Linked DNA regions of Homo sapiens. The protein of the gene in region 4 interacts with the protein of the main gene of each other region in a pairwise test. Each region holds a gene or a part of one and is shown on either strand. Other genes may lie near its edges.

What was found. Proteins that work in one complex are often made in the same cells at the same time.
Region 1: the proteins of CYB561 (region 4) and TMEM65 interact in binary tests that used the Homo sapiens proteins (3 or more experiments, as listed by UniProt).
Region 2: the proteins of CYB561 (region 4) and SEC22A interact in binary tests that used the Homo sapiens proteins (3 or more experiments, as listed by UniProt).
Region 3: the proteins of CYB561 (region 4) and TM4SF18 interact in binary tests that used the Homo sapiens proteins (3 or more experiments, as listed by UniProt).

Annotation. Positions count from the first base shown.
Region 1 is NC_000008.11:124,317,202-124,320,701, forward strand, and holds part of TMEM65 (transmembrane protein 65), read right to left. Parts: intron 2,991-3,500; coding exon 2,885-2,990; intron 1-2,884. UniProt on the Homo sapiens protein: Essential for maintaining proper cardiac intercalated disk (ICD) structure and function as well as cardiac conduction velocity in the heart.
Region 2 is NC_000003.12:123,204,943-123,208,442, reverse strand, and holds part of SEC22A (vesicle-trafficking protein SEC22a), read right to left. Parts: intron 2,143-3,500; exon of another isoform or gene 1,336-2,142; intron 1-1,335. UniProt on the Homo sapiens protein: May be involved in vesicle transport between the ER and the Golgi complex.
Region 3 is NC_000003.12:149,323,637-149,327,136, forward strand, and holds part of TM4SF18 (transmembrane 4 L6 family member 18), read right to left. Parts: intron 1,387-3,500; coding exon 1,244-1,386; intron 1-1,243.
Region 4 is NC_000017.11:63,439,807-63,443,306, forward strand, and holds part of CYB561 (transmembrane ascorbate-dependent reductase CYB561), read right to left. Parts: intron 1,022-3,500; exon of another isoform or gene 921-1,021; intron 462-920; exon of another isoform or gene 394-461; coding exon of another isoform or gene 386-393; intron 1-385. UniProt on the Homo sapiens protein: Transmembrane reductase that uses ascorbate as an electron donor in the cytoplasm and transfers electrons across membranes to reduce monodehydro-L-ascorbate radical in the lumen of secretory vesicles.

The DNA of each region.
Region 1 (3,500 bases), on a different chromosome or scaffold from region 4:
ATTCCATCTAACTTAACATTAATTTTATATTTTATTCTTCTTCTTCACCTCCCGTTAGTGTTTCAATTCATTGTCATTTGATTTTTCTTCTTCCATCAGTCCATAGAAATTGCTCAGAAATGATTATCAATGAGCAACTACATACCAAATCCAAAAACAAAAAAAAATTTTCAGAAATTTTATTTGATTTCTTTATATCAAGAGGAATTGGTTATCATTCATTACTTCTTAAAACTTCGTCCTTGATAGCTCCCATAAGACTATGAGCTCTTAGGTATTTTCTAGGGTTCTTTAATTCTGCACATTTTCTCTGGAACAACAGTTCTCAAATTTTAATGTACAACAGAATTAAAACACAAATTGCTGGGTTCCGTCTCCAGAACTTTTCATTTTGTGAATCTGTAGCAGGCACATTTTAAGGCGGCCTCCATGATACCTTCCTTCTGGTATTTAAGTCTTTGCATAATCTCCTCCCCTTGAGCATAGGTAGGATGCTCTAACTTGCTTTGAGTAATAGGAAAGGTGATGGGGTGTTACTCCTGTGATTATATTACATTACATAAGGCTCCATCTTGCCATCCTGCCAGCAGACTCATTCCCTTTCTCCCTTGCTGGCTCTGAAGATGCAGGCTGCCATGTTGTGAGAGGGTCTACTGAGAGGGCCACATGGCAAAGAACTGCAGGTGACCCGTAGATCGGGGTGTCCAATCTTTTGGCTTCCCTGGGCCACATTGGAAGAAGAAGAATTTTCTTGGGCCACACATAAAATACACTAACACTAACGATAGCTGATAAGCTTAAAAAAAATCACAGAAAAAATCTCATAATGTTTTAAGAAAGTTTACCAATTTGTGGTAAACTTTTGGATTACCAAAAGCGAGTTGCACAAGCTTGCTCTAGATGGAGGGAGGCCTCCAGGACATGAGAGTGCAACAGCAAGCCAGAGGTTAGGTCCCTCACAGCCACAAAAAAATTAATTTTGCCAAAGACCTGGGTGAGCCTGGAAGTGGATTCATCACCAATTGAGCTTCTAGACAGGAACGAAGTCCTAGCTGGACATGATTGCAGCCTTCCAGAGGACCCATTTAAGCTATTCCTGATCTGACCCACAGAAAATGAGAGATAACAAATATATGTTGTTTTAAGCTGCTGAATTTGCATGTTTTTGTTTTTTTTTTTTTTTTTTTTTTTGAGATGGAGTCTCACTCTGTCACCCAGGCTGGAGTGCAATGGCTTGATCTCGGCTCACTGCAACCTCTGCCTCCCAAGTTCAAGCAATTCTCCTGCCTCTGCCTCCTGAGTAAGCTGGGATTACAGGCGCCTGCCACCACGCCCAGCTAATTTTTGTATTTTCAATAGAGACAGGGTTTCACCATGCTGATCAGACTGGTCTCAAACTCCTGACCTCAGGTGATCCACCCGCCTCGGCCTCCCAAAGTGCTGGGATTACAAGCATGAGCCACCCCATCCAGCTGCAATAATTTACACAATAATAGATAGGTCTAAGATGAAGACTGAGTGTTTGCATTTCTAAGAAGTTACCAGGTAATGTTGATCCTGCTGATGCTGGCACCACATTTTGAGAACCACTCTCCTATGAAATCTCATCTTCTCCCATGGTTTGAACAATCATCTACCTTTTCAGTGAGGCCTACAGTGACTCTCCTATTGAATATTGCAGTCTGCTTCCATCCTAGCACTCCTAGCCTCTTCTACCTCGCTCTGTTTTCCCTTTTTATTCTCATAACACATATAAACTTCTAATATGCTAAATATTTTTATTTATCAGATTGTTTATTGTCTGTCTCCTCACTGCTTGAATGTAAGATCTATCAGAAATAAGATCTTATTTTGTTAACCAATGTATTCAAAACTCCTGTATCTCTACTTGGCATATAATACGTAAACAATAAGTATTTGTTGAATGAAGGAGTGACAATACCCATTATCACTAACTCTGACCTATCTAACTCTTGACTCTAACCTAAATGCCTACTAGGTGTCACCACTCAAATGTCCTATTAGTATCTCAAATTCAATGCGTCCAAAATAGAACTCATTATCTTCCCTTACAAGCTTATTCCTCCTCCTTTTTTTCTTGATTTTATTGATGGCATCATGATCCATCCAGTTTACTTCTTACTTAAAACTCCCCTGGCTCTCCATCACTTAGGTAAGAGGCTCAAGCTCCTTAGCATTCACATACAATAGCTTTCCTGTCTGATCCCTGCTTACTTCTCCAATGTTGTCTCCTGCTGCTGCTTATACCTACAGCTACTATATATTATATTCCTAAAGTCGGTTCTTGTATTTACCTAAATATACCCTTTTTTTATCATCCTCTTCTAATTGCTAGTCAGTATGCTTGGAACTCCTCTTATTCATCTAGTAAATGTCTCATCTATAATTCAAAAATCGGCTTAGATCTAATAATAACCAAGAAATCTCCCCACCAAAAGAAGTTACTCCCCACAGTGTTAATTCCCTTACCTGTATCATGGTTATATCTTGTACATAATTCATTACTGCATATGTCATACCAAATTATAATTTGTTTATATGTTTGGTTTTCCACCTAAACAAGTTCCTCAAGGATAACCACAGTTTATTATTCGTTTTATGTTCTTTAGACCCCAACCTATAAGAGATACTCCCTAATACTAAGTGAATTACAAAATATTTTTTAAAAATTAAGTATACCTACAAAAAATAAGGAGTTAATAACACAAATTACTGTTCTTCTGAAAACTGCCAACGTCTAGACAATTTTTGTTAAAAACTCCATTCAAACCAATTTTAGTCTCAAATTTCTCAAGGGCCTGAACTATACAGAATCTTGCTCTGGCTACCCAACTCATTATCATAAACCATGTAAATTACTTACCAAATGTGTACTAAGACGTGTTTGCCACATGTCAACTTGCTTTGGTGTGAGATCAGGAATTGACAGGCCTAACCTGGAAGCCAATGCTTCAACGTAGCCTGCAAGTCTTTGAAGAAACAAGACAATATGATATATAGGTTATGTTTCAATAAAGCCTTTACAAAAGCAAACAAAACAAAACAAAGACATGAGGACAAAATATAGGTTTTTAAAAAGACATGCAAATGTCCTCATATAGTAAACTAATTACTACAAGGAGAAACAAGATAATTTTACATTTGCACTTGTACTCTAGAAATGACATAAACATTCTTTACAACTTTTAATTTTTATTGCATATATTGTTTAAAAATATTTTATTAACATATTTAACACAAAGGAAAATTAATGACAGAGCAAGTATTCTCTATTATTATTTTTAAAAACAATTCAAGGTATGTAACAATTTGTACAGATAATTAGAATTTCTGCAATTATTCCAAACTCAAAGCAAAGCACTTTAACATATGATACAAATTAGTAACTTATCAGACAGCAAAAGTTTCCAAAATTCCTCAGATTGGTAAACTAACAAAAACACCTTAGAACTGTCAGGCCAATCTCAAGTATTTTATCA
Region 2 (3,500 bases), on a different chromosome or scaffold from region 4:
CAAAATGATTTGGCAATTTCAACAAGAGTCTGAAGGCATACCTTTTAACCTCAATAAATTTAAATATATACCTGTCTTGAGAAAAATAATCAGAAATCCAGGCAAAATTTTAAACAGAAAGACATTCTTCCACTCAAATAACTGAAAGCAATCTAAATATCCTATAAAATGGTGATGGTTAAGTAAATTATAGTATATTCATATAACAGAATATAATGCAGCAACTAAAAGTTATGTTTGTGGAGAAAGTTTAATAATGTGGTAAAATGCTTACATGTTAAGGAGAAAAAAGTAGGATAAAAATTGCAAATGTTGTTTTACACAAACATAAGGATAAAGAGACGAAGATAAAGAGAAGGAAAAAGGGATTGAAAAACGGATGCAGAAAAAGATGCCAAATTAAGAATATGCTCACCTCTAAGAAATGGTATTATTGGTTATTATTATTTTATAATTTCCTAAATGTTCTCAATATTCACAGTAGACATATACTACTTTTATAATCAGAAAAAAATTATTTAAAATAAATCCTAAAGCTAAAGGAATATTGGTTTTAATGTTGTTCTCAATCTTTTTACCAGAAAGTAAATCTTAATGGCCTATTTTATTGGATTCTCTTCTTGCTTTACAAAAACAGATGAAAGGACTTCACAGGCCTGAGTCTGAAGGAACTCAGGTCAACAGTCACTCAACCTTTCATAAAATACACAGTGGCTCTCAAACTTTAGCTTGCATAAGAAGTTGAAAGTTTAGTTAAAAATGCAGATTTCTGAGCTCTGCCCTCAAAATTCTGAACCACTGACTGTGGGATAGGGCTTGACAATTTGCTTATTGTCTAAGGCCCATACTTTTTAAAACATTAAATTAAAACATGTTCACTATCTAAGATTAAGTGATAACTCTTCTCTGTCAGGCCATCAAAGCACAATGTCACTAAAGGCTTCCTCACTAGTGGTGAGGCAACTGGTGAAAATTCAAAAATCTGATAAAAATCTCACAGGCATTTTTCCAAAAATATTGTATCTTAGAGACTAAATTAATCCTTACCTGCCCACTTAATCTAGGTCAATATTATCTCATTCCAAAAAGGAAAAAATGAGTAATATATATAAAAAAAAATACCACAGAAAACCAGTTGTTACAAAGCTTGTAAATCAGGAGCTGATAGTTTTCACTGCTGTGTGAAGTCAAAATATGACTTCCCATTCATGGTGATAACTGATCTGACAATAAAAATTAACCCAACTAATAAATCTAATGCATTAAGTTCACTATCCCTTTTTCCTCTTTTCATGAGGAAAAAGGAGAAATCTCTAGGTGTTACTGTGTCATTACCCTTTAATATTTTTCTCCTTCAGAGACAGGGTCTCACTGTGTCACCCAGACGAGTGTAGTGGTGCGATCTCAGTTCACTGCAACCTCCACCTCCCAGATTCAAGCAATTCTCATGCCTCAGCCTCGCGAGTAGCTAGGATTACAGGCATGCGCCACAACACCCAGCTCATTTTTGTATTTTCAGTAGAGATGAGGTTTCGCCATGTTGGCCAGGCTGGTCTCAAACTCCTGGCCTGAAGTGATCTGTCCACCTCAGCCTCCCAAAGTACTAGGATTACAGGCATGAGCTACCACGCCCAGCCTCTCCATTCATTTAAAGAGAAAAATATCCAGAAGCAAATTAGTCTTTTTACTACAGTGGAGTCTTCAAACTGAAGTCCCAGTGTGACATATCCCAATTGGTGTTTTTTTCCATTCATCTAGTTTTTTTCTCTCCTAAAAGCAGTAGCATGAAAAAGTTGGGATCCCTGAAGAGATATCTATACTATAAACCCCTCTTTAATTTTTTTTTTACCATGTTTTACTTAATTATTAAATCACAATTGTAACATTTAGCCTAAGTGTAAGAAAGTAGGAAAATGTCTTACTCTATCCCCTTAAGCGTTTATTATTTAACTATAAAACTGTTGTCTTTCCAGAAGTACACTGCAACACAATAACCATTCTGGGAATTAATTTGAGGGTGAGTTGTAACTTGCAGTTCTAAATACCCACATTTTAGTATTTAAAAGCAGATTGGATGGGGTGCCATGGCTTATACCCATAATCCCAACACTGCTTGAGGCCAGGAGTTCAAGACCAACCTAGAAACATGGTGAGGCTCTGTCTCTATAAAAAAAATTAAAAATCAGCTGGGCATGGTGGCACACGCCTATAGTACTTGCTTTGGGGAGGCTGAAGCAGGCCCAGGAGTTCAAGGCAATGGTGAGCTATGATTGTGCCACTGCAGTCCAACCTGGGTGATGAGAGAGATCCTGTCTCAAAAAGTAAAATAAAAGTAGACTGTATTATTTTATGTCTGGCCTCTCTAGGATCCTAATAGAAATATTATGAATAGACTTCATTAATAGGTTGCCAAATTTCATGTAGTCTTCAAAGTTATTCTTTAGTGACTTGGAGGACAGATCAATAAATATATGATCCATGCTTTCTAAAACACATACTGTAAAAAGAATACAATTTGTAAGTTCCATTCGTTTACCAAACATTTACTGAATATCTAATGTGTCCCATGAATTATGCCAGATAGCAGGAATGAAGAGTCCTACCATCAAGAAACATCACTCCTCAATTAGAGAAACTCAGTTGAAAAGAGCAAACAATGCAGGTGTGTTGCCCACCACTTCACTAACTGGAAAACTAAAGTTGGACAAACTTACATTTCAAATACTCCTTTTTTTGTTGTTTTTTTGTTTTGTTTTGTTTTGTTTTGAAACAGGGTCTCACTCTGTTGCCCAGGCTGGAGTGCAATGGCTCACTGCAACCTCTGCCTCCCAGGTTCAAGCGATTCCCCTGCCTCATCCTGCCAAGTAGCTGGGATTACAGGTGCCCGCCACCATGCCTGGCTAATTTTTGTATTTTTAGTAGAGATGGGGCTTAACTGTGTTGGCCAGGCTGGTCTCAAATTCTGACCTCAAGTGATCCACCTGCGTCGGCCTCACAAAGTGCTGGGATTACAGGTGTGAGCCACTGCGCCCAGCCTCAAATTTTCCTAATATGTACTTTAGCCTTTAACCAAAAGCAGAACACAGTAGTTACATTCCCTGTCAAAATTATTACAAGGTTGTCAGAGAATGGTTTCTACTTATCCATAGATAAGATTTTTCTTAGGGAAAAAATTAAACCTCTTTCTACCACAGTAATTTGATTCAGCATCCAAAGCACTTGAATTTAAGCCTGACAAACGGGGATGAATGTCCAATGATCAACGTCAGGCTTAACTAATTTGTAGACAGATTCCAACCACCTTAGGCTAAGCTGTCTCTCCATCAATTCAATAAACATACCCCTACTTTTTTTCTTTTTACCACGGATTCATAATATAGTTTGTTTTTTTTTAAACTAATCTTATCTGGACTGTGCTAGCAGAAAAGGAAATCTGTCCATGTCAGGCCTAAGCTAGGTTAAAGTATCTTTAAGGTCTTAAGGAGGGTTGTGGTTGGGAA
Region 3 (3,500 bases), on a different chromosome or scaffold from region 4:
TAAGTTGAGGATGTACACCACCTCAGGACCACTGTGATAATTGTGTTAACTGTACAAATTGATTGTAAAACATGTGGTTTGAACAATATGAAATCAGTGCACATTGAAAAAGAGCAGAATAACAGAGATTTTTAGGGAACAAGGGAAGACAACCATAAGGTCTGACTGCCTGTGGGGTTGGGCAAAAAGAGCCATATTTTTCTTCTTGCAGAGAGCCTATAAATGGATATGCAAGTAGGAGAGACCTGAGGGAGAGTCATGTTTGCTAAGAAAGGTCATGGTATATGGCACCATGTAAAAATCTTCAGAATGAAGGCAGCTACAGTCACAGAAGCAGCTCTGCCATGTAGGCCTAGATGCACATGTAAGACCTCAGATGGACATGGGCCTTGAACAATAAAGCTAATCATGGAGAGTTGAGAAGAAAATTTAACTTCCCCCAGTGAATGGTACAGACATTCCCTCATTTTACTCCATTAGAATTCTGGACCTCTTCTGTATTTCTTTCTGGGCCCTGCTACCTCCTAATCTGCATCTGGTGCTGGGAACCCAATAAGCCCAGCACAATGCCAGTGTGAGGCATTCTGAGATCCGGGATTGGGTTGTGAGACTCCTGACTGAATTACTAGCCTTCTGAGCAAGGCTACCTCTTTAGACCCTTCTCCAGTATAAGCTGCATAAGCTCTGGCTCATTCCACAAACTCCTGCACCTAATCATGTTCCTGGACCTCAGACTGTACTTTCCTGCTCATCCTGCCTTGTTCTATCTCTTTATCATCCCTCCTACTATAGCCCTGAGTGGCACCATCCAAGAGCACCATGGTTTCTCTCCTCCTCAAGCCCTTTTACACTTGTAACAGACCACATGTCCAACCTGGCCATAAAACAAAACTGAGTTCCTGGATCCACCCAGTCCATAAGCTCCAGCTGTTACCAGACCAGACCATAGTAACCACACAACTTTAATCTGAGGTATGGGAGAAACACACCTTTCATTTGGATAGCTCCATGACAACCTCAAGACATTGAATGAAAATGGCATTAAAAGACTGAAGAAAAAAATCTAAACAAAGATCTGTGCAAGAACAAATTGGTCTGGATATTAGTAAACTAACAGGGAAATTCTGCACTAAAACAGCCACATGGAACCCCAAAGTGATCATGGAAAATGAGCGTGAGCTTGAGCATGAGGCAAGGTGTTTCTGATTTTCCGACCTCCTTGGTTTGGGGAATTATTCCTTACCGTCCAGCAGTGCCTTCAAAAGCATACTCCCAGCCATCAAGGGTGCGGCAATATGGCCCTTGGACAAGACCCAAGGCAGAGATGACCAGGCAGTATCCAGAAAAAGCAATTCCGAGGGAAGAAAAGATAATTGACAGCAGTGTCTAAATTAAAACATAGAAGCAGGTTAGTACCATAGAATGCGACAAGGGGATATTGTGGATAAATTATCAGATAGCTACATTCCCCTATTCACCCAAGCTCATGCAGTCTATACAATACTAAATGCCCACATAGAAATAAAAAAAAAAGTAATCCAAACCTATTTGATCTTAAAAATAAGCTTTTAAATAACGTTTAGTTTGGCATCACATAGAGGTAACTAGGTAATTTACTAAATTTATTCTTTCCTTGTGGAATTTTGATATCAAAATAATGATCTCCTCTTATGAAAATGCAGTGAAGGATGTGATCAATCAACCCATAACTATCTATTGAAGACCTGTTATTTTCTAGGTAGAGTGGGTTCTCTAAGAATTATAAGCTATGACCTCTGCTTTCCTCTTATAAAGATATTAAAATATCTTTACAACAATATAAAGGAAAATGTCAGGTATAGTATTGAAATTTATATTCATATTCAAGTGACGATAGGATTGATGGAGAGGGGGGTGTTTTCATTTGAGTAGAGAGAATGGGTGTTATTCACAGGCAGATCAGTGCAACCAGAGTTGTGAGAAAGTAGGTTTAATCTAAGAGGGGTTTATTCAGATGAGTGAGGAGAAAGGCTCTGAAGACAGATTGACATGGTACTAATGCTGGGAAAACAAGGTTGATAGGGCACAATTCAGCCCTTGAGTAGCTTAAAAAGTGAGTACAGCTTGGTAGATCCAGGCCAGAGCTGGCCTTGAATGCCAGGTTAAGAAATCTGGACTTTATCCTTCAGGGCAAGGGACTTCCCTCCTCCCAACCTTAAAAAATGTCAAATCTACAAAAAAGTTGAAAGTATAGCACAATAAACCCCTACATATCCTTTATCTAGAATCACCTACATGAATATTTTACCATATTTGTTTGTGCTTTCTCTCTTTCTCTGTGTGTATGTGTGTATATATTCATGCAAAGTATATATGTACACCTGTACATATATACAAATATGTATTTATTATGTGTTTTTGTTACTGAGCCATTAGGTTGCAGACATTATGATATTTCACCCCTAAATATTTCAGCATACACCTCCTAAGAATAAAAACATTCTATTATTTTGTAACTTTTAAATTTTTTTTGTACAGGATCCAATAAAGGTTTATGTACAAGACTACATCTCTTTAGTTTCCTTTAATTTACACTAGTCTTTCTGCCTTTTTGTTTTTTGGGGTGTTAAACTGTTTTTAAGAATCCCTGACAGTTGTCTTGTAGATGTCTCACATTCTGGGCTTTTCTGATTATTTTCTCACAATTGAATTCAAACATTTTAGCGAGAATACTTAATGGGTGTGGTGTACATTGTGGGCCTTTCATGCTAAGGGTGGTGCTAAGTTTGATCTCTTGGTTAAGAGTATCCTTCAGATCTCTTCCCTGGATAGGTACATTTTCCTCTTGGCAATTAGTAAATAACTGCCAAGGTGATGCTTTGAGACAGTGTCATATTCTGTTTCTTAATAACATTTCAACTGATGGATTTAGCATCCACTGATGATCCTCATATTCATTGATTACCAGCAATCACTGTGGTTCCAATGTGCTGCTTTCATAATGCTATAATTTATCTGCATTTATGTTATCATTTTTCTGCACAGAACAACTTCCATTTCCCATTCCTCTCTCCTTTGCCTCTGTCTATATTTTCTGGACTCACAGATCTTCTAATTCATTGTGCTATAATCCATAAATGCGATTATTCTTTTAGATGCACAGATGGTCCAAATTCGGCCAATGTGAACATCCCTGTAGGTCAACTCCTATGCCCTTTGACATACTCATGTCATTCTTTGAACATTTTCTTGCTTTCTGGCACAAGATGTTCCAGGTTCATTTTGAGCTTACCCTGCCATAGACCTGGAAGAAGCTGGGGTTTTGTTGTTGTTGTTGTTTTGTTGTTGTTTTTGAGTTGTAGTCTCACTCTGTCACCCAGGCGGGAGTGCAGGGCCTGATCATGGCTCACTGCAACCTCCACCTCCTGGGTTCAAACGATTCTCCTGCCTCAGCCTCCTGAGTAGCTGGGACTACAGGCACGTGCCGCCACGCCTAGCTCATTTTTGTATTTTTAGTAGAT
Region 4 (3,500 bases):
CCTCACACTCTTGCATTGCACGGCCATTTTTTAGCCAACTAGTTCCCATTGTTCAGCATTTAGCTAGCTTTCGATTTCAGTTTTCCACCAAATAAACAACAGGATGTGGTCATCTGCAAACTTCTCTGCAGGGAATCCTGAAACAAGGGCTAGGTTCTGTTTTAGACTTCTGACACATTCCATCAAATCATCTCCCAGAAACATAGCTCCAATCCACATTCCCAGGGTGGACGGGAATACGGGATTCCAGAAGCCCCAGCCAACAATAAATCCTATTTTTGGAACTCCTGCCTCTGTCCTTATCTGTCACCTACACGGGTATCAGTTCTGTCCCCGCCACCCCAAATTCAAGCCCCATTTCTGACGGTTCACTACTCATCTCTACCTGGACATCCCACAGACGCTTCAAACCCAGCTCGTCCCAAGTCACCTTCTCTCCCATCGTCGCCAAGTTCTCTCATGCCCTCCCCACTAGCTAGCAGGGCTGCCCTTCTTCCGGGCCCAGGTGACACCTCAGCTCCTCCACAGAAGGCTGCCCAGGCCGCCGCATGCTGGCACCCCTCCCCTCACTTCCCTCCTGAGCATCCTCACTGCCCCACCCAAGTCAGGGCCTGCAGCTTCTCCCTCTTCAACGTGACAGACATGCCAGGGACAAAGCCAGCTCCCAACATCATGCTGTCCCCTGCGTAAGTGCCCCCGAGTGCCAGTGAAATGCCAACTGCATGGCATGATCCTGCCCGTTTCCATCTGCAGCCCCCACTGTTCCTGCTAGGCCCTCTAGAGGAGACGCCTGGGCTCACAGAATCCAAGGACATGGCCCAGCCTGGCTCCCTGCTGTGGGCCCACACCCCTGCCTCCACTCCTCAGGCACCGCGGTGCGCAGATCACTCTGTCCCCAGGCTCTCCCGGAGCCTCCTTACCCTCGCGGTGCCCTGTCTGCTCCTCGAAGGCAGGGACGCTCTCACTCCTCCTTGGGTATCTTTGGGTCTCTAATACCCCGAGTCTAACAGGAAAATGTACTGAAAGAAGTGCTGTCCCCCCTGGTCACTTGTTGTCTGTCCTCCTCTCCAGGTCGCCGCCTCCTTTATTAGATTCATCCCCAGAGAGCCTGGCTGCAGGCAGAATCTGATTAGCTACAAATTAGGAAGAACAGAGGGGACATCACCTCTCCCTCTGCTGGGTGACCCGGCAACTTCCTCACACCTCGTGGAGTACAAAGGGCAGGAGAGGCCCGCAGAGCGAGGGGCCGCTGCCCACTCCTTCCTTCCCACCAGGCTCCCTGGAAGACAGTGGACATCAGAGCCAGGCTCTCTTCTCGCAGCGACGACTGCCTGCGGCTTCAACATCCTACAGTGAAATGCCCGGCCTGGCCTCCCGGGGAGTCGGAACCATAACATTGTTTGCTCCCCACCATGGCAGGGCAGACGTGTGCTTGGTGTGTCAGTAGGGTGGGGACCCAACAGCCTGTGAGCACCTGCTCTGTGCTGGGCACTTCATGCCATCTCTAATGTCACCCTTAAATGACACTGTGTGGATAACAGGAGCATTGCCCCAATTTGACAGGCCAGGAAATGGAGGCTCAAAGAGGACAAGCGACAGGCCCCCAAATTCCCATCAGCAAATAGCAGCTCAACTCAACCCGCAGCCACCTGCACTTGGCCAGGTGCTAGGGCCACACAGAGGGGGCCTGGTCCCTGCCCTAAAGGGGCGTGCAGATGAGCTTTGGTACAGACCCAATTTTCAGGTAAGGGTGGTACAAGTTCAAGCCAGGAGCTAATCTGGGCCTCCAAGACCCGTCCCAGCATGCACACGGAAGACGGCACCCCTGCTTTGATGTCTGTGGGCAATAGCATCTCTAGCTCTCCTGCCGAACAGTGGCTGCCTGCTCGTGGCTTTGGCCTTTCCAAGGCCCAGGAACTAGGGTGGTGCTGTCAGTCTTTCCAGAGACTGAGGCCAGCAAGGGTCTGTGTTGGAGCTCACTGAGGAAGCTGCTTTGACGCAGGGGAAGCTCCCGGGCGGTGCCCCCCCTCCTGTGCCAGTCCTCCTGCGTCCTCCCCGCCTCGGTTCCACCATGGCACTAAGCACTGGTGCGTGCAAGACAGCAGGCCCTGACCGAAGGCAAGAGGGAAGGGGTTACAGGAGGGCAAACAAGCCGAGGAAGATGCATTTCCATTTGCTCCTAAGGCGGGTGCCCTGGCCTAGGCAGCCCAGGCACCCGGGGCACCTGGGCATCTGGGAGGAAGCCAGAGATGAACAGCGGCCTCTGGAATGACAGCAGCCTGCTTCTGATTCAAAGGCGAGGCTTCAAAATCTAAGTGTAAGGATGAAAGGAAAGCCCATGGCTGGCCTGCAGGCGACCACAGTCCGTAGGTTCTGAGCGTGGCTCTGTGCTTTACAGGAGATAAGCGGAAGATCCCTTCCGCAACAGGACTCTCGTGAGGCCATTCATTGGACATAATTGATAACCCATTTGTGTGCAGGGAAGGGCTGTCCCATGCCAGAGGTGGGGGTGTACAGGGATAGACATTCTGGTATCTCTGGACAGAATCTGACCCACCCACAAATGTGTCTGCTGCATTTGCAAACCTGGACATTGGGTGAGATTTCTCCCTAGGAAGCAAGGCTTTGAATCGTGGCCCTCATTTCCCAGTCTTGACAGCAAGAATACTCTCTCGCTCTTCCCTCCTCACTGGGCAGCCCTGGGACACCGGCTGTTCTTGGGCCCTCTGTGTTCTCAGAGCAGAACTGTGGGCAGCAGCTTCAAGGCCTGGAAGCTGCCACTCCCCACCCCCAAGGGCTCCACTGCCCTGCAGACCAGAACCTTGCAACCAGAGGGAGCTCACGTAGCCCCTCACACAGTCACTTGCCTTCCTCTGTGACAGCTCAGGATGAGGGTGACAGATCTCTGGCAGTTTCTGGATCTTAGAGCTGTGAGAGTCACCCTCGTCCCCACCCACTCACCCTACCTGCAGCCAGAATCCACTTAATGCAATCAGCGCATTAGGGACAGCATGACCCGCAGATCTTCACTGAGCCAAGCATCGCTCTCCCTCCCGGTGCCCACTGCGTTTTATTAAAAGGCAACCAAGACTAATCTCATTATTGGGGACCAGACACTGCACATGGTGCACAGCCTCGGGGGCGGAAGGCGGAGCAGGGGAGGCTGGGAAGCGGGCAGCCTGGGCTGGCTACAGCCCTCCTTATCAACAGCAGAGTTTGAATTGAGTTAGGAAAGACTGTGACTGCGGAAAGGCCGATATCTCTTCTTGATGGGTGAAGGGGAAAACAGCTCAATTGCCCTAGAGCGTCCTAGCATGTGATGAAGGAGAAAGCAAAGTGTGGTGTGAGCTATTAGGGTACTTTCTTAGCACCCCAGTAGCCCCAGGAAGAAGGGGCTTCCCAGGCAGTGCTCCCCATCCCATGCCAGTCCTCCTGCATCCTCCCCACGCTTGTACCAGCATGGCACTAAGCCCTGGTGCATGCAGAGACACCAGGCCCTG